Homo sapiens: one gene and its partners. The protein of the gene in region 7 purifies or fractionates together with the protein of the main gene of each other region. This does not show direct contact. Each region holds a gene or a part of one and is shown on either strand. Other genes may lie near its edges.

Region 1 (4,550 bases), on a different chromosome or scaffold from region 7:
GGTTCATGGCTTCATTCTTGACGTCAGCGAGACCACGAGCCCACCTGAAGGAACCAACTCCTGACACAGAAGCACAGGCCATCTCCCTAGGCCCAGCTGCCTTTTGAGGGTGCTCCCAGGTGTCCACAGTTTAAGATCACCGAGTATCTGCTCTAGTTAGAAGGATGCATCAAGGAATGGGAAGCATTGGCTGAGGGGAACCACTAAGAAACACCTGCCTGGGCTGGCCTTTCCCCTGGGTGTGTCCACAGACAGCTTTTGCCCAAGAATTTCAGTATAGGTGAGAAACAGGAGAGATGGGTGGGGCTGTGTCGGGCGTTGGTTCCTTCCGGCGGGTATGGTCTCACTGACTTCAAGAATGGAGCCGTGGACCTTCCCGCTGTTATAGCTCTTAAAGGAATAACACTCTTTGCAGACCCAAAGAATGAGCAGCAGCAAGGTTTAGTGTGACGAGCAAAAGAACAATGCTTCCACAGCCTGTAAGGGAACTGGAGCGGGTTGCAGCAGCTGGCTGGGGTGGCCAGCTTTTATTGTCTTAGTTGTCCCTGCCCACGTCCTGCTGATTGGCTCATTTTACAAACCTCTAGCTAGCTACAGAGCGCCAATTGGTGCGTTTTTACAGAGCACTGATTGGTGCATTTTACAAACCTCTAGATACAGAAAAGTTCTCTAGGTCCCCATTCGACCCATCAACTCCAGCTGGCTTCACCTCTCAGGGCTATGAGACTTCCGTCCCTTCTTGCGGGTCTTTCAATAAGTCCCTTTCCTCTCTTAGCTAGGGTTCTCCAAAAACCACGAAGAGGAAGACTTCCCTACGTCCGAACTGGGGCACTTCTGCGTTTCTTCCCTTTCCCTCCACCGTTGTTCTGGGTAGGGCTCCACATTTCCCTAAGCACTCTGGCCACCCCCTGCCCCAAGGCAGCTACTTTGGGTTGTGCAAGGTAAGGTCCATGGCGATAAGATTCACGTTGGCAGGTCCGGCAGCCCCGGGCCCTGTAAGTGATGCGGCGTGTGGGGCGGGGGCCGGGGCGGAGCCGGCGGCCGGTGGCACCACACATACGGACCAATCGCCGTCCCCGCCGCGGCATTCCCGGCCCCAAATCACACTGCGGGAAGCTCCAGCGTTGGTGCCTGTTTCGTCTGCGCATGCGCCGGGACACGCCTGCGCCCTTGGCCGCAGTCAGGGCTCCCGAGTGGTCACTCTGGTTGACCCGCGCAAGCTCTGGCCTCGCCCACTAGGCTGGTCGCGTCAGAGGGTGGGGCGGGTCTTCGCCCCGCAGCGTCTAAGCTCTGCTGCGACGTTATGGGAACCTGGTGACCCGCGGCACACTCTGGGACGCCAGGGTAGTGGATAGGGACAGTGGAGGGCATCACGCTGCAGGGCACGGGATCAGAGGGGGATGCAAGGGGAGGGGACGCCATTCTGGCCGCCAAGGGGGAAACGCGGTGAAGGGAACGCCCCGACTTTCGAGTCCCTAGGACTGAGTCCCCAGGACTCCAACCCAGCAGAGAGGCGCCGGGGCCTTAGCTCTGAGGGCTGTGGTCTAGAAAGGGAAGCAGCAGGCCTGGGGCTGGGGCGCGCGCCGACCCCGCAGTGAGACCAAGGGAAGAAGGGACAGGACCCCGCGAAGGGCCTACCGCCCCAGAGCGTAAACAGCGGTCCGCTCCGCGGAATAGCTGAAGACCTCGCTGGCCTGCGGCTCAGTGGCCTCCCCGGCGATTCGAGAACAGCTCTGGGGGTCCTCGCTAAGTGTATGCCATTCCCAATCCCTTATGTACGCCAGCGGCCGCTTGCCCTCCCCGGCCAGCGCTGTCCCTTCCGCGTCCTCCAGTCTTCACACGACGCAGGGGTCCCCAAGGCAGCGGTCTCCCCAAGCTTCCCGTTTCAGCCCCATCCTCGAGAATGGGCTCCTTTCCTGCTCCCTCTCCGCTCCTGCTGGCGAGTGGAGACCGGCACCTAGGTCCAGACGCGGCTGCGCTGCCTCTCCTAGCCATCGAGACAGGATGTGACTCCCTCCCCTGGCCACTGACCCCCTCCCTCCCCAGGCGGCCTGCATCCTTGCTCTCCTCCCTCCTAGCCTACCCAGCTCGGGGTTCTGTCCCCGCCCAGAGACCTGAGGCTCGGGGCTGCAGATGGAATGCACGGCAGGGAGGCGGGACCCTTTGTTTGTGTGTGCGTGTTGTTGGCCTCCATCCCCACTCCCCAGACTCCACTTCTCCAGGCCTCTCTCCCGCCTTTTCATCCCGCATCCGCAGGACACCCAATCACCGGGCAACAGGTATGATCAGGCGCCTCCGGGCTTTCCTCCGAATTAGTCGGTGTTTGGCTCGGAGTGCGTAACTCTGTCTCCCCTGCACTCAGCCTCCGGTCCCGCCCTCTCCTGTGCCCCCGCCTGGCTGCGCTCACCGTGGCATCCTGCCCGGCGTAGTGGCTGATGACCCGGGAGCCCCCTGGATGCCGGCGGGTGAACTCGCTGATGTTGTACACCTTACGGTCGATCACTAGCCACCGCTCCTCGCACCCTGAGCGCTGGGCCACCTCGTCCCAGGTGAAGTAGCGCGGGGTAGGTCCCTGAGCCGCGGTCTCGGCGGCCACCGGGTCGGGGGCCATAGCTGGCCTGGCGACGCCGCGCGCCGGGCCAGCAGGGGCTGTCAGGCGCGTGCTCGGGGTCCGCGGGCTCCAGGAGTGGATTTGCTGGCGCGCGCCCAGAGCCAGCCGCCTGCGCGCCGGGTTTTCAGCACCGCAGGGCAGACCGGCGGGCCTCGCAGCGCGCGTTCCCATTGGCCGAGCCTCGTGGCGCGGGGAGCGAGATCCCGTCCCCCGGTGGGTCTTGGGCAACTCACAGCTGGGCTGCCAACACGCGCCCCCTCGCGGGCTCCCTAAAGGCGTCGCCGCCGGATTCGACTTCCTGACGTCAGGCGGGCATCGCGGCGTTGGCTCCCAGGGGGCGCCGCGGTAGGAACAGCGGTTCTAGTGCAGGCCCTGGGTGCGGGGCCGCGCTGCAGGAGTGAATGGACTGAGGGGCCAGGGCTGCGGGGTGGCCGCAGGAAGGGTGGGCGGGGCCGGGGTTGAGGTTTTTCCGTGCACGAGGCTGCCCGGGCGGTCGCGGACATCATCTTTAGGCTGTGGATGCCTTGGCCGGGGTCTCCAGACGCTGACCCTCCAGGGTTGGAAACTACTGCCTGCTTGCCACGTCGTGCCGCCAATTGTGCTGCCCGAAGTAGCAGCCTGAGAGCCCTTGAAAGTTGCAGTTATCTTGTGAACAGCATATTTACGGTCTCTTGGGCTTGGTGGTGGTTGGGGGAGGGCTGTTAATGCTTTAATTTGTTCAATGAAACATTTAAAATGCCCCACAATTTTTATAACCCTGTTTGCCTCTTTTTGTTTTTATTTTTATTGTATTTTGGAAAAATTCACTGGGATCCTTGAGTGATGATCCTAGCGTCTCCTGACCCTTAGGTGTTTCACCTGAAAAGCCTGGGTCTTCAAGCTGAGGCATTTCTGTTCTAGCCTGGAGGCGCCTAGGAGCCCTGGGAGACTTTTTAAGCAGAGAGATTTGGCATTTAGATCTCTGGGTTTTAGAGGAGTGGGAACGCACCTAAAAGTGGGGTTGCCAGTTACAAAGCTGTTGCAGTCCTGAAGAGACCCAGAGTTTAGGTCCAAAATTTTATTTATTCAACAAACACTTTATAAAGCACTTACTGTGTGCCAGGCACTGTTCTTAGCGTTTTGCAAACCTTAACTCATTTAATTCTCCTAACAACCCTATGAGGTTGGAACAATTAACCTAATTTACAGTGAAGAAACTGAGCCCGGGGGAGGTTATTTTGTCACACAGCTTGTAAGTGGAGGGCTGAGATTTGACCCTGGCCTGTGCTCTGAACTCTCAGGCTCTGCCATATTTCTCATTACACTGGTATTTGGGCACTTCAAAGGGAAAGGAAACATAACTGTCCCAAGCACTGAGCTAGATTCTGAGCACGTAGGAGTCAGGAGAGGGTGATACAGAATAGACTAGGTGAAATATGGCTAGATTTCTGGTAGAAAAGGATTAATTCATTCCATCCAAATTCTTCATTTTATAGATAAGAAAATTGAGGTTCGAAATGGGGAAGGGGCTTACCAAGTTCCCATAGGGAAGTTTAGATGTCCTGACTTCCAGGTAAGATGCCAGGCTATTGGACCCTGCTCAGGAATGATGGTCCACACAGCTGCACCTCTGTACAGCCAATATTCCTTTTTTAAAAACCTTGCCCAACAACTTGGCAGTGTCTAATGCGAGCTACAAAACATTTTCTATTCTTTGATCAAGCAGTTTCACTCTTGGTAAAGTAGGGGAGACTGTGCAAAGATGCAGAAATAGCCAATTTAATAGCAAAAACTGGAAATAAACCCGAGTCCTGACAATAAGAAAATCGCCAAGCTTATTGGGATCTGTTAACACAATGAAGAATTAAAGAATGATTTTAAATGGCTAGAATGTGAACTATATTGATAGATATAGAATCCTTCCCCGTGAAATAAGCAGAACCCAAAGTAGTATGGGTTC
Region 2 (3,889 bases), on a different chromosome or scaffold from region 7:
CTTTACATTTTTTTTTTAATCAGGGAAGTTTTATTATGTTGGCTTACAGTAACACAATCAGAAAACTATATTGCAGGTCAGGGCCCCCTAGATTCATAGTGTTTGAAGGTAATGAAGAAGATATAAATCAAAATACCTTATCCTGAGAAAGATCTTACCAGCTGTGCAGCTAAGACACTTGAGAACTCGCTATTCATGGCATATGGAAGTGCTGTCTGTGCTCTTGAACCGTAAGTAGTCTGGAACCTCTTCTTTATCTCATTCAGAAAATTAAAGGCTCGGGAACGTTCAAAATCCTGAAAAGAGATCAACACAGAACTCACATTTAGAAAGTAAACAAAGATGATGTGAGTGATTAAGAACAACAATAAAAAACAGCTAACATTTACTGAGCAATGATTATCTGAGGAGGAACTAGCATTGATCCTATCTTAAAGATAAGTAAAGGAAGGCTCTGAAAAAGTAACTAACTTGTCCAAAGGTCCAACAACTAGTAAATGAAAGAGCTGAGAATGAATCCAGATATATCTGGTCATTGACAACTGAAGATAATGATACCTAGGTTATCAACTTCTTGACATCAGGAATTGAATTTTACTTCCTCCATATATTTCATAAGATCTATTAGAAGGCCCAGCACAAGAATATGTTTAATAAATCCCATAATAATCATAGAGTCTTTCACACATACAGATACTACTACTGATATTAACTTCAAATCGAATTTTTTCAATAGTGGTGGTATATTTGAAAAGATCAAGTGACATACTCATGTCTAATCCCAGCCAGCCAAAAAGTATGTGTGTTCTCTGTAAGAATACCTTAGAGGAAAAAAATGAATGTGTGTATGTGTGTTTATGTATACATGTATATGTGTGTATCAAATTATAGCTCAAGAAATATGAGGCTCGACTCTAACTATCCCAGATTTCATTAGTATTTTCCTTCTATTCCAAGCTGTTTCACATCAGTCATTTCACATATAGCTAGATTTTTTCGTACTTTTGGAAAATATTGTGAAGCCAGAGATAAAAATCATTGTGATGATCACTATGGTTGACAGTCATTTCCCTTTCACCCAAGATGCTTAGTCTAAGCCAAGGGTTCTTAAATTGGGGTCAATGGTCCAAATTCAAGGGGCCTTTGAACTTGGATAGAAAAAAAGAAAATCACATCATTATTTTTATCAATCGTTAACTTATATTTCAATTGTGAATATAGGTTGTATATTCATAATCGGGGTAGTATTAAACAGTACCTGTAACTGTCACCAACAGAAATCTTTTTTTGTATACCATCACAGTTACAGATATCTCAAAATACTGTCAACACCCATCACATCAAGACTATTAGTTATTAGACCTATGACTAGATCTTGTTAATGAGTTCATAAAGAAGCATATATATTACTACATCAAGTTTTTAAAATATTTTGAATACTATATATATATATATTTCAATATAATTGGCTTTGTTAGAATTGTGTGTGTTTTATACATTTAAAAGCATTCTGGAAAAGGAAAATTAAAAAAAGAAAACAAAAACATTCTGGGAGTGTCCCACAAGTGACGAGTCTGTGATACAATAAAGATTAGGAACCCTGATCTATGGCAACCATGCCAATTCCAAGTCTCTTTGCCAGTAGGCAGTTTAGAAATGAGCATGCAGCCAATAAGACATGAAAGGAAGTTCACTTTGAAAGCAGGGGGAGGGGAGGGCATGCAGCTGGGAAAAGCTTCCTCATTCCTACAATAAGACACTCAAGAAGACACAGTCCCTCTACTCCGGACATGAATAAATAAGTATGTAGCTCTACGAAACCATAATGGCAACCTGTCTGGGAAGAAGGAGACACGGAGATAAGCAGAGAAGAGAAAGGACCTTAATGACATCATTAAGTTACTGAGAATTTTGGGCTGAGAGCCGACAAACAGTCATACCTAACCAATGTAAACTACAGGTTTATATAGCTGATCATAATGTATTGTAATTTTGTTTTTCCAAAGTTCACATACATTAAAGGATTCATTAACTACTGATAGAAGAAATGATGCTATCTAATTTAACATTCCACGTAAACAATTTTTGAGAGGTTTTGATATCAAAGAATTATAATTATGAACATCAATTCTCACTACAAAATAGAATAAATATAGAAGTTGCAAGAGGCTAAGCTAAAACTCTACCAAAATTGAGTTGATTTGCACATACCCCAGTATCAAGTTTTCTTAACATTTGCTGCTCTATATGACAAATGCAAAATATTAACAATTCCAGCTATGTAAAGTTCGCATCACGTTTGCCCACTATAGGTACAGATCAGCAGTCCCCAACCTTTTTGGCACCAGGGACCGGTTTTGTAGAAGACAATTTTTCCAAGGACTGGGGGAGGGTGAATGGTTTCGGGATTAAACTGTTCCACCTCAGATCATCAGGCATTAGATTCTCCTAAGGAGCATGCAATTTAGATCCCTCGGATGCAGAGTTCACAACAGGGTTCACACTCATATGAGAATCTAATGCTGCTGCTGATCTGACAGGAGGCAGAACTCAGGTGGTAATGCTCATAGGCCACTCACCTCCTGCTATGTGGCCTGGTTCCTAACAAGCCACAGACCTGTACCGGTCTGCAGCCTGGGGGTTGGGGACCCCTGGTATAGATAATTAAGAACTGGCTGTATTAACAGTACACATAGTTAAATAGCAATATGTCTTCAAGTTACTTACATCATCAGTGATACAAAGATATACAATCCTGTCTTGGCAGATGTAATGAAACAAATAACTGTAGAATAAAAGATATAAAACTTACTGTGGTTATAAGCAACATCACTTTTACTTCTATCTTCTATCTATGTATAAGCACGTTCAGTACTGCCAATGTCACCATATTACTTACGGATACAGTCTCTTCTCCCTCTTCCCCTTCCCAATATACCTGTTTCTTTCAAGTCAAACTGATAGAAGTACATAAGAAATAAAAAGATCTCTATTCTAGCTACATAGCACAACAGCATGTGTATTACCCATTAGAACGATAGCTGCAAAAGCATAATTGGACTCTTAAAGCATGAACAAGAGATGACATCTTAGGAGGAGGATGTAATTAAGATTAACCCCCAATAGGCCATATGGTTTTCTTTGCTTTTTCCTAAGTTCTTAAAGCAAACATCTTTTCTACCAAATTCTCAACATTTGAGTATCCACTTTGAGTTAGTTACTGTGCTGGATGCTGAGGATACAAAAAAGCAAAACCACCAAGTCCCAGTCTTCATAGGGATCACAGTGTAAGGAATTACAGTGCAGCATGGCAAACAGGATGACAGGAAAGTTAAAGGCAGTACATGGTGCTCTGGGGACACATTAATAGATGAGGCACGAAATGGAGATTTGCCAAAGGGTAACCAGAAAGACTTCCCAGAACAAGTGATGTCTGATTTAAGACCTGAAGAATAAGTAACAGATGGCAAGGTAAAGAGTGAGCGAAAGGCCAGGCGTGGTGGCTGGCTCATGCCTGTAATCCTAGCACTTTGGGAGGCTGAGGCGGGCAGATCGCTTGAGCTCAGGAGTTCAAGACCAGCCTGGGCAACATGGCAAAACCCCGTCTGTACACAAAATACAAAAATTAGCCAGGTGTGGTGGCACACGCCTATAGTCCCAGCTACTTGGGAGGCTGAGGCAGGAGGATCGCTGGAACCCAGGAGGTTGAGGCTGTAGTAAGCTGAGATTGCGCCACTGCACTCCAGCCTGGGTAACAAAGTGAGACCTTGTTTCAAAAAACAACAACAACAAAAAAAAGTGAGCAAAGAGTTTTTCCAGAGAGGAAGCAGCAAGCATAAGGGCCTAGAGGTAAAACAGCACCTAATAGATTTAGGAAAGTAAAATTGGC
Region 3 (4,619 bases), on a different chromosome or scaffold from region 7:
CTTAGCCTCCTGAGTGGCTGGGACTACAGGTCACCACACCTGGCTAGTTTTTTCATTTTTTATTTAATTTTTAAATTTTCTGTAGAGATTGAGTTTTGCTGTGTTGCCCAGGTTGATCTCAAACTCCTGAGCTCAAGCAGTCTGCCCCCCTCAGCCTCCCAAAGTGATGGGATTACAGGCATGAGCCACTGTGCCGGGCTCTAAATCATACTTGACTACGTTATATTGATACTTGACTACATTATATTGTAAACTTTTAGAGGGCAGAAGTTATGCTCACCTTATTTATTCTGTATGTTTAAAAAAAGGGCGCGGTGGCTCACGCCTGTAATCCCAGCACTTTGGGAGGCCGAGGCGGGTGGATCACGCGAGGTCAGGAGATCGAGACCACGGTGAAACCCCGTCTCTACTAAAAATACGAAAAGTTAGCCCGGCGTAGTGGCGGGCGCCTGTAGTCCCAGCTACTCGGGAGGTTGAGGCAGGAGAATGGCGTGAACCCGGGAGGCGGAGCTTGCAGTGAGCCTCGCGAGATTGCGCCATTGCACTCCAGCCTGGGCGACAGAGAGAGACTCCGTCTCAAAAAAAAAAAAAAAAAAGCATTACCTACTGAAGATGTAAAGAGCTGTTACTATGATGCTGGACAGTGGGATATTAAGTTTTGCCTAACAGAAGTCTTAGGGGAGGGTACAAAATTATGTGAACTTCCCAGTTGATTATGAAACAACTTTGCTACATTTTTGGCATAAAGAGATAGAAGTAACAGTAATATATAGCATCCACAAAAAAACTCAACAAGCATCTACTTATCAGGTTTTATCTTTTAATCCCCTATGGACTCTGTGATGCTACAGTTATTACTTATATATTTAAATCACAGACTGGACACCTGGTTTTTCCAGTCACATAATTAAGTTTACATCTCAGTATTACCATTTAGCCTACTTTCCATTTTTTATCTGAAAATTAATCTTATTAAGATTAAAAACTCAAATATACCTATTTCGTTTTTTATAACTTAATTCAACTTTTTTTCTGACCGATTAAAGGGAATGCCTACCAATGTCAGTTTTCCGATTATTCTCCCTGGACTTGGAAGTGGCTAGGCTATATTACTAACAGTATTATACAACCTAATTAGAGAACAATAAAGTTGACCTTTGAAAATAACATATCAAACATCAGAAAGTGTCTTTTCTTCATCTGCTTTAAGGATTACATTTGTTTCTTTTGTGTAAATAATACATTATTACAATTTGAGATTATTTACTTAATCTTTAATACAATGAGAGCTAAAAATAAATCAATAAACATTTGAAAATATTTTCTACAATTCTATTTCATCTCATTTACTAGTAACATTTAAGTTCAGCCTCACTTTTGAACACTCATTTCCTAAACCTCAATTGTCTGTAATAATTTTATGTTTTCTTGTGCAGTAGTTTTCCTTCCGCTGGGTCATCTATTAACACTTCTCCAACAAACCAGAGTCTTCTTATGAAGGACTGTTGTGAATACTGGCATTCGTAAATTTCTAAAAATAAAATTTCCCAGGTGCACAGTTTTCCTCCCTGTCAGCATAATCTTGGGCTAAAGTTGTTGTTTAACAAGGCAATGGGCATTTATGACATTTCTACCCATTACAGCATTTAACAAATGTTATTGTAATTGCTAATTCACCTGTCTGTATTCCACTTTAGACAATAAACTCTGTGAGATTAGAGACCGTGTCCATCTAGTTCATCTTTGTATCCTCAATCTAATATATAATAAAAGGTCAATAAAATATATGCTGAATCAATGAAAGTCCCAGCAATGTGGGGAATGGTAATGAAGAACTCCAGAGCAATGCACTTACCTGTGAGATCCAGGGTTCTGTCCACAAAAACCACTGATGCCCTGCCTGCAGCAGTCTTCTTCCTGTTCTTTGCAGGGGCATAATTGGCCAGATCCGCAGCGATGACCTGACTTAAGGAACCTACAGCAAAACACTCCTCCCGTACTCCTAAATGTTCACACAGAGAACTGAGGCCTGACACTAGGCATCTGATCTGCAGCAGCAGCTCTGGGGTTAGCGTAGTGGAGTCCACATCACCCAGGCTTCCCAGCTTCCTCTTGTCCGGTCGGGCGCTATTAAGGAGGTGCACATCCTGGGGTAGCAGTGGGAAAAGGGATGCAAAAGCTGGAGTCAAGGCAAAGTGGGGAGCAACAGGGGCAAGCAATAACGGGACATGGAACACCTCGGCCGTGTAGTTCATGTTGCCCATCCATTCACACAGCTTCTCCTCCAGCTGCTCGAACACCGGCTGCTGCCCCTCCATCTCGGCCGCTGCCGCCGCTGGGACATGATTAGCTGTGAGGTGGACAGCGTGGCTCACGGTTGTGACCACCACACAATACTGGAAGTGACTGCGGCAGATGATGTCCCGTAGGATCTCCACGGTCCGGCCTTTCAGCAGGCAGCTCAGCACAAACACTGCCTTGGGCTGCTTGGCTCCACCACCAATTGCGTCGGGCTCGAACTCTCGCAGGTGACAGTCAGGACCCCCCACCGCCTCCAGGAGACGGGTGGATCCGCAGCCCCAGTGCAGGCTCTCGGCGCAGGCGGCGTCCAGGTAAACCACAGCCCGTTTCACTTTGGCCAGCACCTGCTCCCATCCTTGCTGGGTAAAGGACAGTACGCCCGAGGCGCTCATGGTTGGGGATTCGCAGACTTGGGAAACTACGGTGCAGGAACTTCTTTCAGAACTCACCGCTTCCGGAAATTGGGCTCCGGGAGACTTTGACAGTCTCCACAGTACACGTGGTCGGCCTCTGACACGCTCCCTGATGGCGCTCGGTGATGACGTTAAACTGAGCGGTGATTGGCTAGAGAGGAGGCCGGGAGTGAGGAAGGATGGCGCGGTCGGGAAAGAAGTGGGTGGGGCTCTGTGGCTCCGGGCTTCCTCAAAAGCTCGTGGAGATCAGGTGTTTCCTGAGATGGAGCTGAACTGAGTTCTTTCCGTCGCTCGGCCTGTCTGCGCAGATAATCTTCTCAGATAATCTTCTCATGTTCCTTGAAAAGTCTCCGAAATAAAAACCTAATCCGAAATTTGGTATCTTCCTTAGATATGAACACGTCTCCAAAAGTACAGCCACCTTCTCAATCTAAACTCAGAGCAACTAGAAAAAGATAATAAAAACAACCGTGTGCAATATTTTGGGTTTATAGATTGCTGTCACATACGTTATCGCCCACAAGCCTCATAACAAACCCTGTTGTTCTCATTTTCACTTTCTCCATCTTTCCTCCCTCATCTCATCGTCACTACATCTTATAGGCTTAAAAACTCTCAGAATTCAGCCCTTCCTCTCCATTTTTGCTGTCACAAAAACCCAACATCATCGCTCACCCAGGCAATGATCTCCCAACATTTTCTGACTTTTGATCTCTTTACCCTCCAATTCTATTTTCTTCCTAATAAACAAAGTTGGTCCTACAACTTTCCTGCTTAAAAGCTTCTCCTAGCCCAGTTGCCTATAGGATACATCCACACTCTTTAAAAAGCATCAACATCCTTCTTGATTTCTCAATTTCTCTCCAGCTATTCCCAACATGGAGAAAAATTGTACCGATACAATGAAGTCAATAGGCTGAACCCAAAATGTTTTATGGGTTCTGTTTGTTCCACCAATATACTTACATTACTAAGTATAATCTCTGTGCTAAGCTTCAAAGATGCAATGGTTAATAAAATTCATTACCTAATCCACAAAGAATTTACCTGGTAAACTTACCGAAAATAATCATTCCAACAGTACTGCCTGTGAGAGACTTTTTCTAACTCACCACCACTATCACCCTATCACCTCTCACTTCCCCCACCTATCAAACCACTCAATTGATACATTCGCTAAGTACTTGCCATATCATGGGGTAAGTATTAACACTATTTTCTTTAAACTATCTGTTTTGCTAAATTATGCACTAGATGCTTGGTATCCCCAACACTTATAACAGGTGTTCAATAAATGTTCGTTGAATGAATGTTCAATTAATATCCATGGCCAGGCGCGGTGGCTCATGCCTGTAATCCCAACACTTTGGGAGGCCGAGGTGGGCAGATCACCTGAGGTCAGGGGCTCAAGACCAGCTTGGCCAACATGGTGAAGCTCCGTCTCTACTAAAAGTACAAAAAATAGCTGGACATGGTGGCAGGTACCTGTAATCCCAGCTACTCGGGAGGTTGAGGCAGGAGAATCACTTGAACCCAGGAGGGAGAGGTTGCAGTGAGCCAAGATGGCACCACTGCACTCCAGCCTGGGCGACAGAGCGAGACTCTGTCTCAAAAAAAAAAAAAATTCCACATAATAATATATCCAGCCAATTTTTAATAAATACGTACAGTATTCCAAACACTGTCTGGGTTTTAAGGATATAAAGAAAACTAAACCACAGCCCTGATTTCAAAATAATTATGATGAAATAAAGGGACCCACACATGTAAAACAAGTGCAATAAAATGTTACAGAAGCAAATACTTTTTAAAATTTTTTGTATAGGAGTCAAGAAGGAGGAAAAATAAATTCTAAGAGAAAAAGGAAGAAGTCAGAAAAAGCTTCATATAGGGCATGAGTTTTGA
Region 4 (3,889 bases), on a different chromosome or scaffold from region 7:
TGTGTGGCAAAGTATACATAGTAAGAGGGATTACTAATCAGCAGTACCACAAAACAATTGAGAGGAACAGTGATAAAAGGACTGTAAATAAATGTCTATAGAGAGCCTCCTTCTTAAGACTGTATTCTTAAAAGAATGTTATTCAAATCATGTAGCTCAGTTGTCATGTACACTGGATTTTTTTTTGACCACTCGTACATGTACATATAAACAGAAACCACATGGAAAAGGTACATTGGTTATTATAGGTTTAGACTGCTTCCTACTTTCCAGGGGTATCATAAAATAAAGCTGTGGGTCTTGAATATCATCTCTTAGTAGTCTATATATGAAAGCCTGTGGATGATGTAACTCTTCAGATCCTCATGAGTACATGAGTGTTTTTAAATTGTCTTTTGTGGTTTTGTTTTTTAGATAGTAGTAACACTAAAAAAATGTAATGGCCTTGGGTGAGCATGAAGTCACAGTGATGAGATTTTGCTTTTGCACCTTTCAGCTTACAGAATCAAGTGATTACTTTTAAGAAAAAAATTCTAATTTCTAAAATTGGCTAGTCACTGAAACCTTGTATATTTTCAAAGAAAAATAGAAAAAATTTGAGAGTGTAGAACAAACTGGCCAATACAACTGGAACATTTCTATTGTTAGAGCAGCAAAACCATTAAAAAGTTAAATAATGTCTATATGAGTTATAAAAATCAACAAAATAGGAAATGTGGTCTAAAATGTGATTATTTTTTTCCTTTCCTTCAAGTTCTTATTCCCTGATGCTGTTTCTGAGAAACCATTAGATGGAACTACTTCAACAGATAATAATAATCCTCCATCAGAGAGTGAAGACTATGTAAGTTGATGTGGAGTTCAATGTTAAAATGTTTTAAATGCACTGAATTTCTAGAGGTTCTATATATTTCTAGTTTAATAGCTTACTATATTTTTATTTTAAAAATCACCTTGGGAATTTTGGATGGCAGATCGTGGTTTCCACTTAGATAACTAGCACAGATACATATTTTGGGTAGCAAGAATTTTTCTGGAAACAATGAAAAAATAGCACAAATATACTCTACACAGCTGTAGGATTTCCCTCATTGTAGAGTTTTGGTGAAATCATTAAATTTGTGTTTCTCAGCAGATTCTTTTTGATATTTTAAAACTAGTTAGTGAATGGACAACTCTTTAATGAAGTAAAATGTGTAAAATTAGGTAAAATTTTCATGGTCTCTTTGTCTAGTCTTTGAAAAATTAAGAAGTTGAAGAATTTAAATGACAAGTGTAGATATATATCAACCTTTACAGTAGTTATTGTTGAGAAGTAGATTTGATGAGGTGAGAGAAAAAAGCAAAGGCTTTTTACATTTTCAGTTTAGATAGTTATGATTTTTGTTTTTTCAGACGTGCTCATTTTTGTAATTAAAAGATTTTTAAAACAACACATGAAATTTGGAATACTTCCTAAATATTCCACAGAAGAAATTGAAAGCTGTAACTTTAGCTTCATTAAACTATAGCTTTATCTTTTTTAATCTTAGTAGAAATCTTGAAAATGTGGGACTTCCTAAGAATAGTTTATGCAGTAGTGTATTAGACATTTGATAATGCCTAGTTTAGGTGGGATAGGTTAATTTTACAATTAAAATCTCTCCCTACGACCTTTTCAGTTATATGTGTAAAATATTTTGGTAACAAGTTTGCTTTGTTTCTATTTTGTTAAATTTAGAATCTCTACAATCAGTTCAAGTCTGCACCATCTGACAGTTTAACATACAAACTGGCTTTGTGTCTCTGTATGATCAATTTTTACCATGGAGGGTTGAAAGGAGTGGCACACCTCTGGCAGGAATTTGTTCTTGAAATGCGTTTCCGATGGGAAAACAACTTTCTGATTCCAGGGTAATAATTTCAATTTTCAATTGTTTGGATACGATTTTGTTTGTTAGCAGACATTTGACTTTTGACCTATTTTTTCCCCCTTCTAGGAAGTCTGCCCTAAGAAAGTGGCAAGAAGCTTAGACATGATTTATGTTCAGAGGTGTTCACTGCAGCAAATTTATTAATATAATAGAAAAAAAGGCAAAACCTAAATATCAAACATAAAAGAATAGTTAAATAAATTATACTGTATCTCTACAATAGAAAATTAGATTGATTACAGTTTTTCCCCCAATAATCTTTAATAACAGATGTTCATATTGTTTCTAATAAAGTAGAATATTTTAATGCATATACAAAGTACTTTTAATTATGTTGCTATATTTGTACAGGAAAAATATTATAAATACTGTGAAATGCTATCAGTTTTTCCCAGTGTGAAATTATACTTTTATTTTGTTCTTTATACTTTTATGCATTTTCAAAGTCTTTTGTAATAAACCTGTTTTTTGTAATTGACATTTTACTTAATCAAACAGAACATTTTCATTAGCACATAGGTTGATATTGCATAGTTTAGTGCTCATCTACCCATGCTATGATAGGAGAATCATGATTTTGAGCAATATAAAATGATTACTGATCCAAAAACATTTATATCATTTGCCAATCTCTGCTTAGCTGGATTCTCTCTTGGTTTTAGACAGTCCGCTCTGGAACATTTTACAGACCCAGAAGCATGTTGAATATGAGGGAGTGCCTCTGGCTGATTGCTGGGAACCTAGTAGTCTAGAGGAACCTAGAACTAGAGACAGTCCAAGGTCCTATTGAAATACAGGTGGAGATCTTGGTTTTTATAGTGAGAATCCACTGTAAGAATTTAGTACTGAATACACAAACTGATTTATTTTGTATGGTGTGAAATACTGTATGCTAGTACTTCCTGGAGTGGGTTCAGGGGCTTTTTCTCATTTTGAGTTTTTGTTAGCCTGAAAACTATCACTAATTTGCTGTTATGTTTTGAAATATCTATTATATTTGCTATTGGTGATTTGTGGACAAGGAGTATAAAATAAATTTTCATCTTTTAATTCTATGTGCTCCCCCTCTGGAATTCACTTACCTTACCTGTGGAAATCTAGTTTTGATTTCTTATCAATATAGCTAAAAATTATGGTAGTATAGAAAATAATCATATCTGAAGCAATTTTACTAAAACTAAGCTTTCTTTTCTCCTTACTTTATTTGATAGATTAGCAAGTGGACCCCCAGATCTGAGGTGTTGTTTACTGCATCAGAAACTACAGGTAAAGATTTCTCAATGACATGGATAAATGTGGTCTTGATTTAATCAGATTATTCTAATACTAAATGTAATAATGGGTTACATGCTGTTCTCATGGTGCTGCTGTAGGTTGCCTATAGTCAGTAGTCACTGCAATTCACAAGGTCCTGAGAAGTGGAGAGTGAAAATTAAATATTCAAGCAGTAGGTAGATTTTTATTTTTCTGTAACTAATTCAACTATAAATGTTATTTCTCTTTTCTTAAGATGTTAAATTGTTGTATTGAAAGAAAGAAGGCACGTGATGAGGGGAAAAAGACAAGTGCTTCAGATGTCACTAATATATATCCAGGGGATGCTGGAAAAGCAGGAGACCAGTTGGTGCCAGATAATCTAAAAGAAACAGATAAGGAAAAGGGAGAGGTAGGAAAATCTTGGGATTCCTGGAGTGACAGCGAAGAAGAATTTTTTGAATGCCTAAGTGATACTGAAGAACTTAAAGGAAATGGACAAGAGAGTGGCAAGAAAGGAGGACCTAAGGAGATGGCAAATTTAAGGCCGGAAGGACGGCTCTATCAGCATGGGAAACTTACACTGCTGCATAATGGAGAACCTCTCTACATTCCAGTAACCCAGGTAGGATGCACTAGTTCTTTCCATTTTAATTTATTTTGTGGTTTATATAACTTCATCCTAGTAGAAGATAGTGCTTTGAGTAAGGAAAATTATCCAA
Region 5 (3,889 bases), on a different chromosome or scaffold from region 7:
AAGTCAGTCAGAAGTTGGCTGATCTAGGATTTGCTCCATGTTTCTTTTCCTCGTTGGACCAGCAGGCTAGCTGAGGCATGTTATCCTCATGACAGTGGCAGAGGCATAAGAGGAAAAGTGGGAAAACACACAATCTCTTACAGCCCAGGCTCAAAACTAGATTGCCAGTTCTGCTTCATTCTAGTACAGCTGGATATTGGGGTCGAAAGTGCAGTTTTCCATGAATATTAATTAAAGTTTGAAATGAGGCTGGGCATGGAGGCTCACACCTGTAATACCAGCACTTTGGGAGGCCAAGGCGGGAGGATCACGAGGTCAGGAGTTTGAGAGCGGCCTGCCCAACATGGTGAAACCCCATCTCTACTAAAACTACAAAAATTAGCCAGGCGTGGTGGCACGCGCCTGTACTCCCAGCTACTCAGGAGGCTGAGGCAGGAGAATCGCTTGAACCTGGGAGGTGGAGTTTGCAGTGAGCTGAGATTGTGCCACCACACTCCAGGCTGGGTGACAGAGCAAGACTCTGTCTCAAAAAAAAAAAAAAAAAAAAAAAGTTTGAAATGAAAGTACATACATGAGATAACATTCTAGTGTTCACACTCAAGTGTGAATATGCTCAGATAATCTAGTGTAAATGACTGCTGGAAAAGATATTAGTGCTTTCTCTGCTTTTTCAGGGCTCTGAACTCAGAAGAGATAAGAGTTGTTTTTTTTTAACTACCTACTTAACAATTTTACTTAAAGGTAGTTCTGTTTGCTTTAACTGTGACTAAATAAACACAGTACAAGCCAGAGTACCTGGAATATTTATCGCAACTCTAATCTTCAGTATTTAAATAATATTTTACTTGAAAGGTGGTGGAATCATGAAAACATGGTAGTGCCAAAGTGAAGACCCATGTGTAGCTTTTTGCTAGAGTTTTCATTTCAAAAAATGATCTCTGATTCATCAGCATGAATTTCCAAGTTTGGGGTACAGGGCAATGCACTTTCCTCAGTTTATTTATATTATTGTTTTTAAAAATTTGCAATACTTACCAAAGATAAAGGATTTGTTAGAAACAGCTTTTGGAAGAGGAGCAGTGATATAGGTTTATTTTACTAATGATAATAGTAAGTAAATTATAAAGAACCTTTAATGTTTTCTGAGAAAGTAAAGCCTATTCTTGGAGTTTATAATCATTTAAGTGGTTCTGGACAAAACTTACCAAATTCTTTACTGTTATTACTAAAAAGAATGTTAACAATTTTAAGAAAACAAAAAAATTATTTTTTAAGAATTTTGTTTATCGGTTGATATACTCATTGCCAAACCAGATTAAAGTAATATTCCAATTGGATTGGCTTCTTCTAAGCTCTACTTCTAAGGAAATTGTTTGGATTGATTTGCTGTCTGTGCTTTGAGAATGACTTTTTTCCCCTCCTCCTTTTTTTTAAAGCAAACTTTGCGTAACTTATTGAGCAAGGTTTCCCCTTCCTTTTCTGCCGAACTTAAACAACTAAATCAACAGTATGAAAAATTATTTCATAAATGGATGCTGCAATTACAGTAAGTATTATCATTACAAACCCTTGTAAAATAAAGAATAATATTTACATGAATCTTTATGTTAAAGTAAGTTAACATTTTTCTTTTTACAGTGAGTTTCAGATATTTAGTCATATATAAAAATAAATGTAAAAATAGACATTATGACTCAGATATAGAAATGTCACTTTATTGTATGACTCTTCCCAGAAATTCTACAGTTTTTAAGAAATTTGTGTTTATCAGACTTGACAGCCATTGATAAGATAAATAGCATTTCTTAGAATTATGTTATTGGTTTAAAAAACTTGAATATTTCCTTTGTCAAGATTAATAAATATAACAATTAGAAAAAAAAATTATAAAGTTTTCCACAGCATAGTTCTTTAAATGAAAGGATAATATTTACTTTAATCTTATGTATGTGTACTACAGACTTTCAGAATTTTATGAACAGATTTGTTCTATAAGCATTATTTTACTATTTTAACATTATTTCCTAGAATATTTTTTCACTGTTATTATTTTCACACACCTCAGATTAAATTTTAAATTTCCATTAAAACACCTAGAAGAATGATTGAAATCAAAACATAATACTTTCTTTTTATGATAATTACTTTTATCCTTGCAGTTAAAAAGACTTGAACATAAGGAAGTGCTTAAAATGTACACTAATGTGAATATACATGCACACTCACAGTTACATTGTCACTGAGGTAAATAAGAAGGTAGAGCCATGGACCAGGCACTTGGCCTCCCATAATCCCAGTGCTTTGGGAGGCCAAGGCAGGAGGATTGCTTGAGCCCAGGGGTTTGAGAGACTCTGTCTTAAAAAAAAAAAAAAAAAAAAGTTATGCTAGGAAGGGAATGATTAACTTGCCTGCAAGAACCTCAGCTTCTCTCAATAACTATTTATGGATCTATGCATTATAAATTTGTAAGCTCTTCATTCTAATCCCATCCCCAGCCCATCATTTTTTTCTCCCAGCGTGTCAACTTAGATAACTTAATTTGCTTTGCTTCTCAGATTAGACCTTATAGTCAGCAAGTTTGTTGGAATTGCTAGCTCTCTGAATTCCTTGCCTCTTTATTTCTGCTGCTTTGACCTTGGTAATCTCTACCTTTGGAGGTTACCTCTTTTCTGTTCTTCCATTTCTAGGTTATCCTGCATTGCCAGAGAGCATCACATAAATACTGTTTCTGCTTGACCTTTGTAAACAATCACGGAGTTGGACTTTAGCTTGACCTCTAGTGCTTGGTGTTCTGGGTGGTCTCATTCACCCTTCTGGCTTCAGTTGTTTTCTGTATATGAATGACTCATGTAACTGTTAACCTCCAACCCATACCTCACTCTCAGTAGCAGACCTGGATATCTGAATGTATATTAGAAGTTTATACTTGGGTGTCCTGTAAATAATTCAACATACATAAAATTAAACTCATCTGAAATCCACTGTTCCCACCTGCCCCTGCTATCCAGCAGAGTGAATGACTGAATGTTAGTCACTCCATTTGTGTAGTTGCCTATGGCAGAAAACTGAGTCATTCTTTTTTTTTTTTCTTTTCTTTTTAAGAGACAGTCTCACTCTGTCACCCAGAATGGTGTGAATACAGCTCAAGGAGCCCCAACCTCCTGGGTTCAAGCAATCCTCCCACCTCAGCTTCCCAAATAGCTGGGTCCATAGATGTGTGCCACCATGCCTGGGCTAATTTTTTTTATTTTTTATTGTGTAGAGATGAGGTCTCACCATCTTGCCTAGGCTGGTCTCAAACCCCTGGGCACAAGCAATTCTCTGCCTTGGCTTCCAAAACTGCTGGGATTACAGGTGTGAGCCACAGCGCCCAGCCCTGAGTCATTCTTAAGTATTCTTTTCCTCACTCTCCACATCTAATCAGTCTCCAACTCTTACTGGTTTGACTTTCTATAAAGTTCTTGACATTTTAACATTTTTCTCCATGACAGCTAAGTTAATCTTCCACAGTTTTGTTCCTTCCTGTCCATTCCCCAAATATAATCAATGTGATCTTTCTGAAAAGAACATGTTACTTTCCTACTTAAAACCTTTCTGTTAACCCCTCATTAGTTACTTTTAAATGCTCATTCTTGGCTGGGCACGGTGGCTCACGTCTGTAATTCCAGCACTTTGGGAGGCCAAGGTGGGTGGATCACCTGAGGTCAGGAGTTCCAGACCAGCCTGACCAACATAGTGAAATCCTGTCTCTACTAAAAATACAAAGTTAGCCGGGCTTAGTGGTGCATGCCTGTAATCCCAGCTACTTGGGAGGGTGAGGCAGGAGAATTGCTTGAACGCGGGAGGCAGTGAGCCAAAATCGCACCACTGCACTCCAGCCTGGGTGACA
Region 6 (3,889 bases), on a different chromosome or scaffold from region 7:
GAGCAGTTTCTAATGTGAGAGTCAACACACCTGAAAAATGAATTTGAATGGTGGAAATTCAGTAAGTACTTTATTTATGAGTAAGGCTGTACAGGATTCAGCAGTGTCTAATTCGGGTCCCATATAGAAGTTAAAATTTTTAAATGAGTAATTCAGCTTACAGGGAAATATATTTTCATCTCAATCTTTTATGCTATATCATACCTCAGGCTTTTTAAAAATTATTTTTGAGATGAAATTTTAAAGTTCCCCCGGTACCCAAGTTACCATATTATATAGTATAAAGATAGTGAAATACAAAAATGTAACAAATACTAATACACTGTGATTAATAGCTGTTTATTAGCTTTTTAATAAAGCAAAACTTTATAGTGAAATAAACTAGAAATAGCTTTTTATTTTTTATATATATTTATTTATTTTTGAGATGGGGTCTTGCTCTGTTGCCCAGGGTGGAGTGCAGTGGCACAATCTTGGGTCACTGCAGCCTCTGCCTCCGCCTCCTGGGTTCAAGCAATTCTCCCACCTCAGCCTCCCATGTAGCTGGGATTACAGGCATGTGCCGCCACGCCCGGCTAATTTTTGCATTTTTAGTAGAGATGGGGTTTCACCGTGTTGGCCAGGCTGGTCTCGAACTCCTGACCTCAGGTGATCCACCCACCTTGGCCTCCCAAAGTGCTGGGATTATAGGCATGAGCCACCGTGCCTGGCGAAATAGCTTTTTAGAAGCTTTTTAAATGATATGCTTATAAAATGACAGACATGAGTGAAACATCCTCAATGACGATAATACACAAGTCACAAGTTTCCTGTGAGTGAAACTGAGCAGTACAGAGTCAGGCTGACTGTTTAAAAGCCAGATTCACTTCTTGGTATCACCGAGCTCTTACTCTGAAATTGTGCCAGGGGAGCTTCTGAGCATCACTGGTCTCAAGTTTAATAATGCAAAAATTCCATTTTATCATCTAAAGTTTTGGAGAAGAATCCCTTTGGCACTAATGATATTTACTCCAGCACCATCTCTCCTTTTTGGTGCCTCTTCATTCTTGAGTAGGGACTTATTGTATCATCCATCACAAAATCATACAGTACTTTTATCCAGGAATTGTAGTGAGGGAGGTTGTCATAGTATTCAGCTGCTATTTTCCTCACCTAGAAGGGAAAAAATACAGCAAGATGAAAAATGAGTGTTACTAGGTTCTTTCAAAGATGACTGATGAATGGTTGACACAAACACTGAGAAGGGAAACCATGAGACCTGCCTCCCTCCTCTCTCTTAAAAAAAAAAAAAAGCAGCAGCAGCAGCAGCTGTGGGAATTCTAAACAAAAAGCAGTCTACATTTCAGCAGCAGTTGAATACACTCGACCCTCTAGGTCTCTCTCCCATCACATTCCAAGGGACTAAATATCTGGCTTATTTGTAAAATTAACAACAAATACATACAATTAGATTAACTTGATATTATTAAAGAATGTACTGCATGGATGACGCCATAGAATATAAAGGCAACATCTGATCCCTGCCATCCAGGAACTTACAAATACTAATAAATTGTGGCATGCTAATTAGATAGAAATTAAGCACTTGGCTGGGTGCGGTGGCTCATACCTGTAATCCCAGGACTTTGGGAAGCCGAGGCGGGTGGATCACCTGAGGTCAGGAGTTCGAGACCAGCCTAACCAATATGGTGAAACCCCATCTCTACTAAAAATACAAAAAAATTAGCCAGACATGGTGGCGTGCGCCTGTAGTCCCAGCAACTCAGGAGGCTGAGATAGGAGAATTGCTTGAACTCGGGAGGCGGAGGTTGCAGTGAGCCGAGATTGTGCCACTGCACTCCAGCCTGGGTGAGAGAGAGACTCCATCTCAAAAAAAAAAAAAAAAAAAAAAAAGCACTTATCAAATGTGCAATTCTGCCATCTCAAGTTAAAAATGTCTTTTCATCTCAAGTTAAAAAACTATCTGGATGGGCACAGTGGTTCGTATGTATAATCCCAGCATCATTCTGGAAGGCAAGAGAATCACTTGAGCCCAGGAATTTGAGACCAGCCTGGGCAACACAGGGAAACCCATCTCTCTCTTTTTTTTTTTTTGAGACGGAGTTTCGCTCTGTCACCCAGGCTGGAGTGCAGTGGCACAATCTCGGCTCACTGCAACCTCCACTGCCCGAGTTCAAACGATTCTCCCGCCTCAGCCTCCCGAGTAGCTGGGACTATAGGTACCCGCCACCATGCCCAGCTAAGTTTTTTGTATTTTTAGTAGAGACAGGCTTTCACTATGTTGGCCAGGCTGGTCTCGAACTCCTGACCTCAGATGATCCACTCACCTAGGCCTCCCAAAGTGCTGGGATTACAGGTGTGAGCCACTGCACCCATCCAGGAAACTCCAGCTCTATAAAAATGTTAAAAATGTTAAAAATTTTAACAAACCATTTGGAGGATTAAAAGAAATTATTTAAAAAATCAGCCTGTCATAGCATGTGGCTGTAGTCCTAGCTACTTGGGAGGCTGAGGCAGGAGGATCACTTGAATCCAGGAGTTTGAGACCAGCCTGAGCAACACAGCAAGACCCTGCCTCTACAAAAAATAAAAAATTAGCCAGGCATGGTGGCACGTGCCTATAATCCTGCCTACTCAGGAGGCTGAGGTGGGAGGATCGCTTGACCCAGGAGTTGAGGCTGCAGTGAGCTATCGTACCACTGCACTCTAGACTAGGTGACAGGGCAAGACCCTGTCTCTAAAAAAACATAAAGTTAAAAAATAAAATTAAAAATAAATCCTAAGTGTAACCACTAAGCTTAAGGACCCAAGAGTGAACCCTTTGTAAAAGTAGGCTGGAAGATGCAGTATTTATATTCTTGCTCTTTTTGTTTTTTTTTTTTTTAATGAACTGCTTGGACTGACAAAATACTAGCCTGGCCAACATGGCAAAACCCCATCTCTACTAAAAATACAAAAATTAGCTGGGCGTGGTAGCATGCGCCTGTAATCCCAACTACTTGGGAGACTGAGGCATGAGAATCGTTTGAACCCGGGAGGTGGAGGTTACAGTGAGCCGAGATCGTGCCACTGCCCGCCAGCCTGGGCGACTGAGTGAGACACCGTCTCAAAAAACAAACAAATGAAAAAACAAAATTAGAATATGTATCAAATCCTTTACTTACCAGTGGAAGACTTTTTCCAGGAATGTTGGGGAAATCATGATGTTCATTATGATAACCCACATTGAAGGTAAGTAAATTCAGAGGCCCATAATATGAGTAAGTTTCATGACCCTTTAAGAACATGTAATGCTCAGCTATAAAATGTCCAGAAATTGGGTGCAAACCCAGGCCAAGTAAAGATGCTGCCAACATGTAGACTAAGGATTTAATTCCCAAAAAGTAATAAATTAAAATGTCAAAAGTGACCTGTGCCACGGTATTGATAACTTCCAGATACGTAATTGGTTTGGGGTTGATGAACAGAGGTCGAAAGGCATAAAAGAGAGGCTGAAGAATAACCCATATAAACTTTCTGAAAGCGGTACAGAAGAACCAGCCCTCAAAATCGGTAGGAATATCTACATCGACGCCATCAGCTCCAAGGTACCGATGATGATCCATGTGATACCTCTTAAAGGAAATTGAATATGGAATCCCAATAGGAAGATTAGCAAACATTCCAAACCAGCGATTCCACATTGCTTTGCAGTTGCCAAAGGCAGCATTGTGGGCAATCTCATGAATAGCCAGAGTCATTGAGTGGTTAATGCAACTGCCAAACGCATAGGCCCCAAATATGACCCATTTCCAGTCCAAGTCTTTTACTATGTAAAATGCACCCAACTGGGTGAGAACCATCATAATTATAATCCATATCAAATTGGGATCAGGTTTCATCAAGGACT
Region 7 (3,889 bases):
CTACATAATATTTGTCTGCAGGGCCTTGGCGGGGCTTCTCATGCGTGCCCTCCCCCAACCCTTCCTGTTTCGCCCCCTGCAAAACAAAGATCTCACCTTGAACTGCCCAGGATAGAGTTCCTTGGCGAGGGCGAAGAAGGGTTCCGGATGTTTCTGTAGGAGAGACAGCCAGAGGGCCAGATGCCCCAGGTAGCGTGAGGGTTGGAGCCAGGTGACCCCATCCCCACCCCTCACAGACGCCCCTTCCTGGGGGAGCACAAACCTTGAAATAGCTGATCTCAAAGATGGCCTCTGGGTAGGGAAGATGGTACTTCTCTAGGTTGTCATAGAGGCCGGTGGATGGAGAGCGAAAGTCGGGGATGCCTGCGGCTAGGAAAGGGGGGTCAGGGAGCAGTTGGTCTATACCATACTAACCCTCCCAGGACAGGGCTCAGATAGGGCTCCTCCCCAGCCCTTGGGAGGGACTCCCCAGTTCCTGGGGGTAGCTGCTGGGGGAGAAGGGTTACTTACATGTGGAGATTCCAGCTCCCACCAAACAGATGACTCTGCGACCTGGAGGAGAGGAACTTATGCACCATATGACACCGTTTGCTCAGTCCCTACGATAGCACCACCCATCACAGCCCCTGACATCGTTTACTCCATGCCAGGCCCTGGGGCAAGCATCTCAGATGCATGACGGGCCTTCCAATCATCTAGACGGGGATGGTGTTAACATCCCCATTTTATAAATGAGAAAACTGGGGCTCAGATAGGGGAAGAAGTCACACAATCAACTGCGGAAGAGCCAGCCAGCGGATAAAGAATCCAGTGTTGGGCTGGGTGCAGTGGCTCATGCCTGTAATCCCAGAACTTTGGGAGGCTGAGGCAGGCGGGTCATCTGAGGTCAAGAGTTTGAGCCCAGCCTGGCCAACATGGCAAAACCTCATCTCTACTGAAAATACAAAATTAGCCAGGCGTGGTGGCACGTGCCTGTAATCTCAGCTACTTGGGAGGCTGAGGCAGGAGAATCACTTGAACCCGGGAGGCGGAGGTTGCAGTGAGCCGAGATCATGCCATTGCACTCTAGCCTGGGTGACAGAGCGAGACTCCATCTCAAAAAAAGGAAAAAAAAAAAAAAAAGAGAATCCACTGTTGGAAATCACACCAACTTGGACTTGAGAAAAGGCCACTTTAGGATAAGAACCCTGGGCTGAGCAGAAATAGCTAGCTGGTGGCTGGTGAGTAGCCACCAGGCCATAGTACCCTGGCATCTGCCCATCAGCTGATAGACAGGCACAAGTGTGATATGCTGTGGATCAGATGCCTCTGGGATGCCCTGTCCAAGGGAGGACAGCAAAGGTGAACAGAGCACAAAGCCTGCCACAGCTTCAGCCCTGAGCTTCAGCTCTGAGATGCCATCAGGCCAGGCCTGGTTGAATCCAGTGGTGGCTACATGTGGTCTGGATTCAGGGGACCTGGGGTCAAATCCTGGCTCTGCCACTTGGCAACTGTTTGACCCTACACTGAGTCGTGACCTTTTTGTGCCTCCTTTTCCTCCTCTGTTCAGATCACTTCCATAATGATCTTACAGGTATAATGTGAATATCAAATAATAGGGCACTTGTAAAGTGCTGAGCCCAGTGCCTGGCAAATAGTGAAGCCTCAATTAAGTGGTTAAAAAGAAATTTTTAGGGCCGGGCCCGGTGGCTCACTCCTGTAATCCCAGCACTTTGGGAGGCCGAGGGGGGCAGATCACCTGAGGTCAGGAGTTCAAGACCAGCCTGGCTAACATGGTGAAACCCCGTCTCTACTAAAAGTACAAAAATTAGCCGGGCGTGGTGGCACGCGCCTGTAATCCCAGCTACTCGGGAGGCTGAAGCAGGAGAATCGCTTGAACCCGGGAGGCAGAGGTTGCAGTGAGCCATGATAGCGCCACTGCACTCCAGCCTGGGTAACAGAGTGAGACTCTGTCTCAAAATAATAATAATAATAAATTTTTAGAGCAGTGAGGTGAGGGTTGGAGCCTCACCTTTAAATTTTTGCAGAGAGGGGGTCTCGCTTATTGCCCAGGCTAGTCTTGACCTACTGGCCTCAAGCGATCCTCCTGCTTTCAGCCTCCCAAAATGGTGGGATTATAGGCCTGAACCACCACTCCCGGCCTCAACTAATTGTTATTTTTCATTACTATCTCCTCCTGGGCACCCTCATGAGCCAATTACCCCAGAATCCAGGTGCAGGAGGACACAAGGAACAAATGCTTTGTAGCCACTGCCTGTGTTGTCTTTGGGGCCTGCCCAGGCTAAAAGATGGCTGCAGACAGCTGCTCGCCTGCCGCAGGAGAGGGAGGCTCAGGGCAGCAGGCCTGGCTGCCTGAGGAGGGAGACAGTGGCAGCTGGAGGACAGGGACACAGGAGAAGATGTCCTCAACAAAAGGCTGCTCAGGAACCACAAAGGGTCGATTGTTCTAGTTGAGGACTGCCAAGGGCCTGGTTTCTCAGACTTTGGTGACCTCAACTTGTGGCAAGAAATATAAATTTCAGGCCGGGACGGGTGGTTCATGCCTCTAATCCTAGCACTTTGGGAGGCCGAGGAGGGTGGATTGCCTGAGCTCAGGTGTTCAAGACCAGCCTGGGCAACATGGTGAAACCCTGTCTCTACTAAAATACAAAAAATTAGCCAGTCGTGGTGGTGTGCGTCTGTAATCCCAGCCACTCGGGAGGCTGAGGCAGGAGAATTGCTGGAACCCGGGAGGTGGAGGTTGCAGTGAGCTGAGATTGTGCCACTGCACTCCAGCCTGGGCAACAGAGCAAGACTCCATCTCAAAAAAAAAAAAAGAAAAAGAAATATAAATTTCATGCTGACTCAGTAAGTGGACACCTATCCACCACATCTGAAATAAGCCTCCTGTAGTAATAACCACGGCACACCCTGCCACAGCTCTCGCTATGTTCCAGGCCCTGCTCTAAGCATTTGCATTTTTATTTATCTTTTAAATTTTATTACTTTATTTTTTTTTAGAGTCAGAGTCTCACTGTGTTGCCCAGGCTGCAGTGCAGTGGTGCCATCATAGCTCACTGCAGCCTCCAATTCCTGGGCTCAAACAATCCTCCCTTCTCAGCCTCCTGAGTAACTGAGACTACAGGCAACGCCCCCATATCTGACTATTTTTTTTTTTCTTGTAGAGATGGCGGGGGGGTCTCACTATGTTGCCCAGGCTGGTCTTGAACGCCTGGCGTTGAGTGATCCTCCCACGATGGCCTCCCAAAGTGCTGAGATTACATACATGAGCCACTGCCCCTGGTCCTATATTAATTTATTTAGCCCCGCCAATAACCTTATGAGTTAGATACTATAATCATTATCCTCATTTTATGAAACAGGCCTGGTCAATCAGAGTGCAGTAATTCACTCAGCAATGGAGAAGCGACCCAGGTCTGGCCAATCAGAGGCATGGGGGCAGGCATTTGACTCAACCGGGACCAATGGGAGCCAATCTCTGCTGTTTGGTTTGAACTACTGGGAAAAGGTGCTCTCTCGGTGGCAGCTCCTAGGCTAGTGGAACCTGCATTTGCAGCTGCCAGGAGTTACCTTTACCCCAAAACAAGAAAAGCAGCATCAGAGAGAGTTATGATTTTTAACAAAGTGGAAGCACCTGGACCCAGCCGTGCTTCAAGCTGGATTAGAGCCAACACACTCCTTTTTGGCTTAAGCCAGTTCCAGCTGGGTTTCTTGCTACTTATAAAGAAAAGGTTTCAATAAATGGTTCAAGTGGCTGGGGATGGGAGGTCACTTGGGGCCAGGAGCCAGGCAAAGTGGCCCAATCCTGACAGGGGACTCACAGCGTTCGCTCTGCATGTACCGGGCCACCCCTTCCAAGGTCAGCTCGTCCAGCAGACGCTCCTTCTGG

The links.
Region 1: the proteins of SIRT2 (region 7) and FADS1 purify together in Homo sapiens (affinity purification with mass spectrometry; 3 studies listed by BioGRID and IntAct, with this or other methods). This does not show direct contact.
Region 2: the proteins of SIRT2 (region 7) and VAMP7 purify together in Homo sapiens (affinity purification with mass spectrometry; 3 studies listed by BioGRID and IntAct, with this or other methods). This does not show direct contact.
Region 3: the proteins of SIRT2 (region 7) and SCFD2 purify together in Homo sapiens (affinity purification with mass spectrometry; 3 studies listed by BioGRID and IntAct, with this or other methods). This does not show direct contact.
Region 4: the proteins of SIRT2 (region 7) and RAB3GAP1 purify together in Homo sapiens (affinity purification with mass spectrometry; 3 studies listed by BioGRID and IntAct, with this or other methods). This does not show direct contact.
Region 5: the proteins of SIRT2 (region 7) and ORC2 purify together in Homo sapiens (affinity purification with mass spectrometry; 3 studies listed by BioGRID and IntAct, with this or other methods). This does not show direct contact.
Region 6: the proteins of SIRT2 (region 7) and DEGS1 purify together in Homo sapiens (affinity purification with mass spectrometry; 3 studies listed by BioGRID and IntAct, with this or other methods). This does not show direct contact.

Annotation. Positions count from the first base shown.
Region 1 is NC_000011.10:61,814,148-61,818,697, forward strand, and holds the start of FADS1 (acyl-CoA (8-3)-desaturase), read right to left. Parts: upstream 2,857-4,550; 5' UTR 2,783-2,856; coding exon 2,408-2,782; exon of another isoform or gene 2,280-2,407; coding exon of another isoform or gene 2,139-2,279; exon of another isoform or gene 2,056-2,138; intron 1,104-2,055; exon of another isoform or gene 1,089-1,103; coding exon of another isoform or gene 927-1,088; exon of another isoform or gene 710-926; intron 1-709.
Region 2 is NC_000023.11:155,894,519-155,898,407, reverse strand, and holds part of VAMP7 (vesicle-associated membrane protein 7), read right to left. Parts: intron 2,786-3,889; coding exon 2,728-2,785; intron 297-2,727; coding exon 159-296; intron 1-158. UniProt on the Homo sapiens protein: Involved in the targeting and/or fusion of transport vesicles to their target membrane during transport of proteins from the early endosome to the lysosome. Required for heterotypic fusion of late endosomes with lysosomes and homotypic lysosomal fusion.
Region 3 is NC_000004.12:53,363,249-53,367,867, forward strand, and holds the start of SCFD2 (sec1 family domain-containing protein 2), read right to left. Parts: upstream 2,814-4,619; 5' UTR 2,694-2,813; coding exon 1,856-2,693; intron 1-1,855. UniProt on the Homo sapiens protein: May be involved in protein transport.
Region 4 is NC_000002.12:135,132,141-135,136,029, forward strand, and holds part of RAB3GAP1 (rab3 GTPase-activating protein catalytic subunit), read left to right. Parts: intron 1-754; coding exon 755-844; intron 845-1,720; coding exon 1,721-1,893; intron 1,894-3,124; coding exon 3,125-3,179; intron 3,180-3,423; coding exon 3,424-3,792; intron 3,793-3,889. UniProt on the Homo sapiens protein: Catalytic subunit of the Rab3 GTPase-activating (Rab3GAP) complex composed of RAB3GAP1 and RAB3GAP2, which has GTPase-activating protein (GAP) activity towards various Rab3 subfamily members (RAB3A, RAB3B, RAB3C and RAB3D), RAB5A and RAB43, and guanine nucleotide exchange factor (GEF) activity towards RAB18.
Region 5 is NC_000002.12:200,928,996-200,932,884, reverse strand, and holds part of ORC2 (origin recognition complex subunit 2), read left to right. Parts: intron 1-1,436; coding exon 1,437-1,546; intron 1,547-3,889. UniProt on the Homo sapiens protein: Component of the origin recognition complex (ORC) that binds origins of replication. DNA-binding is ATP-dependent. The specific DNA sequences that define origins of replication have not been identified yet.
Region 6 is NC_000001.11:224,189,595-224,193,483, reverse strand, and holds the end of DEGS1 (sphingolipid delta(4)-desaturase DES1), read right to left. Parts: coding exon 3,165-3,889; intron 2,393-3,164; coding exon of another isoform or gene 2,351-2,392; exon of another isoform or gene 2,328-2,350; intron 1,153-2,327; coding exon 1,006-1,152; 3' UTR 43-1,005; downstream 1-42. UniProt on the Homo sapiens protein: Has sphingolipid-delta-4-desaturase activity. Converts D-erythro-sphinganine to D-erythro-sphingosine (E-sphing-4-enine). Catalyzes the equilibrium isomerization of retinols.
Region 7 is NC_000019.10:38,889,593-38,893,481, forward strand, and holds part of SIRT2 (NAD-dependent protein deacetylase sirtuin-2), read right to left. Parts: coding exon 3,822-3,889; intron 553-3,821; coding exon 511-552; intron 370-510; coding exon 263-369; intron 154-262; coding exon 97-153; intron 1-96. UniProt on the Homo sapiens protein: NAD-dependent protein deacetylase, which deacetylates internal lysines on histone and alpha-tubulin as well as many other proteins such as key transcription factors.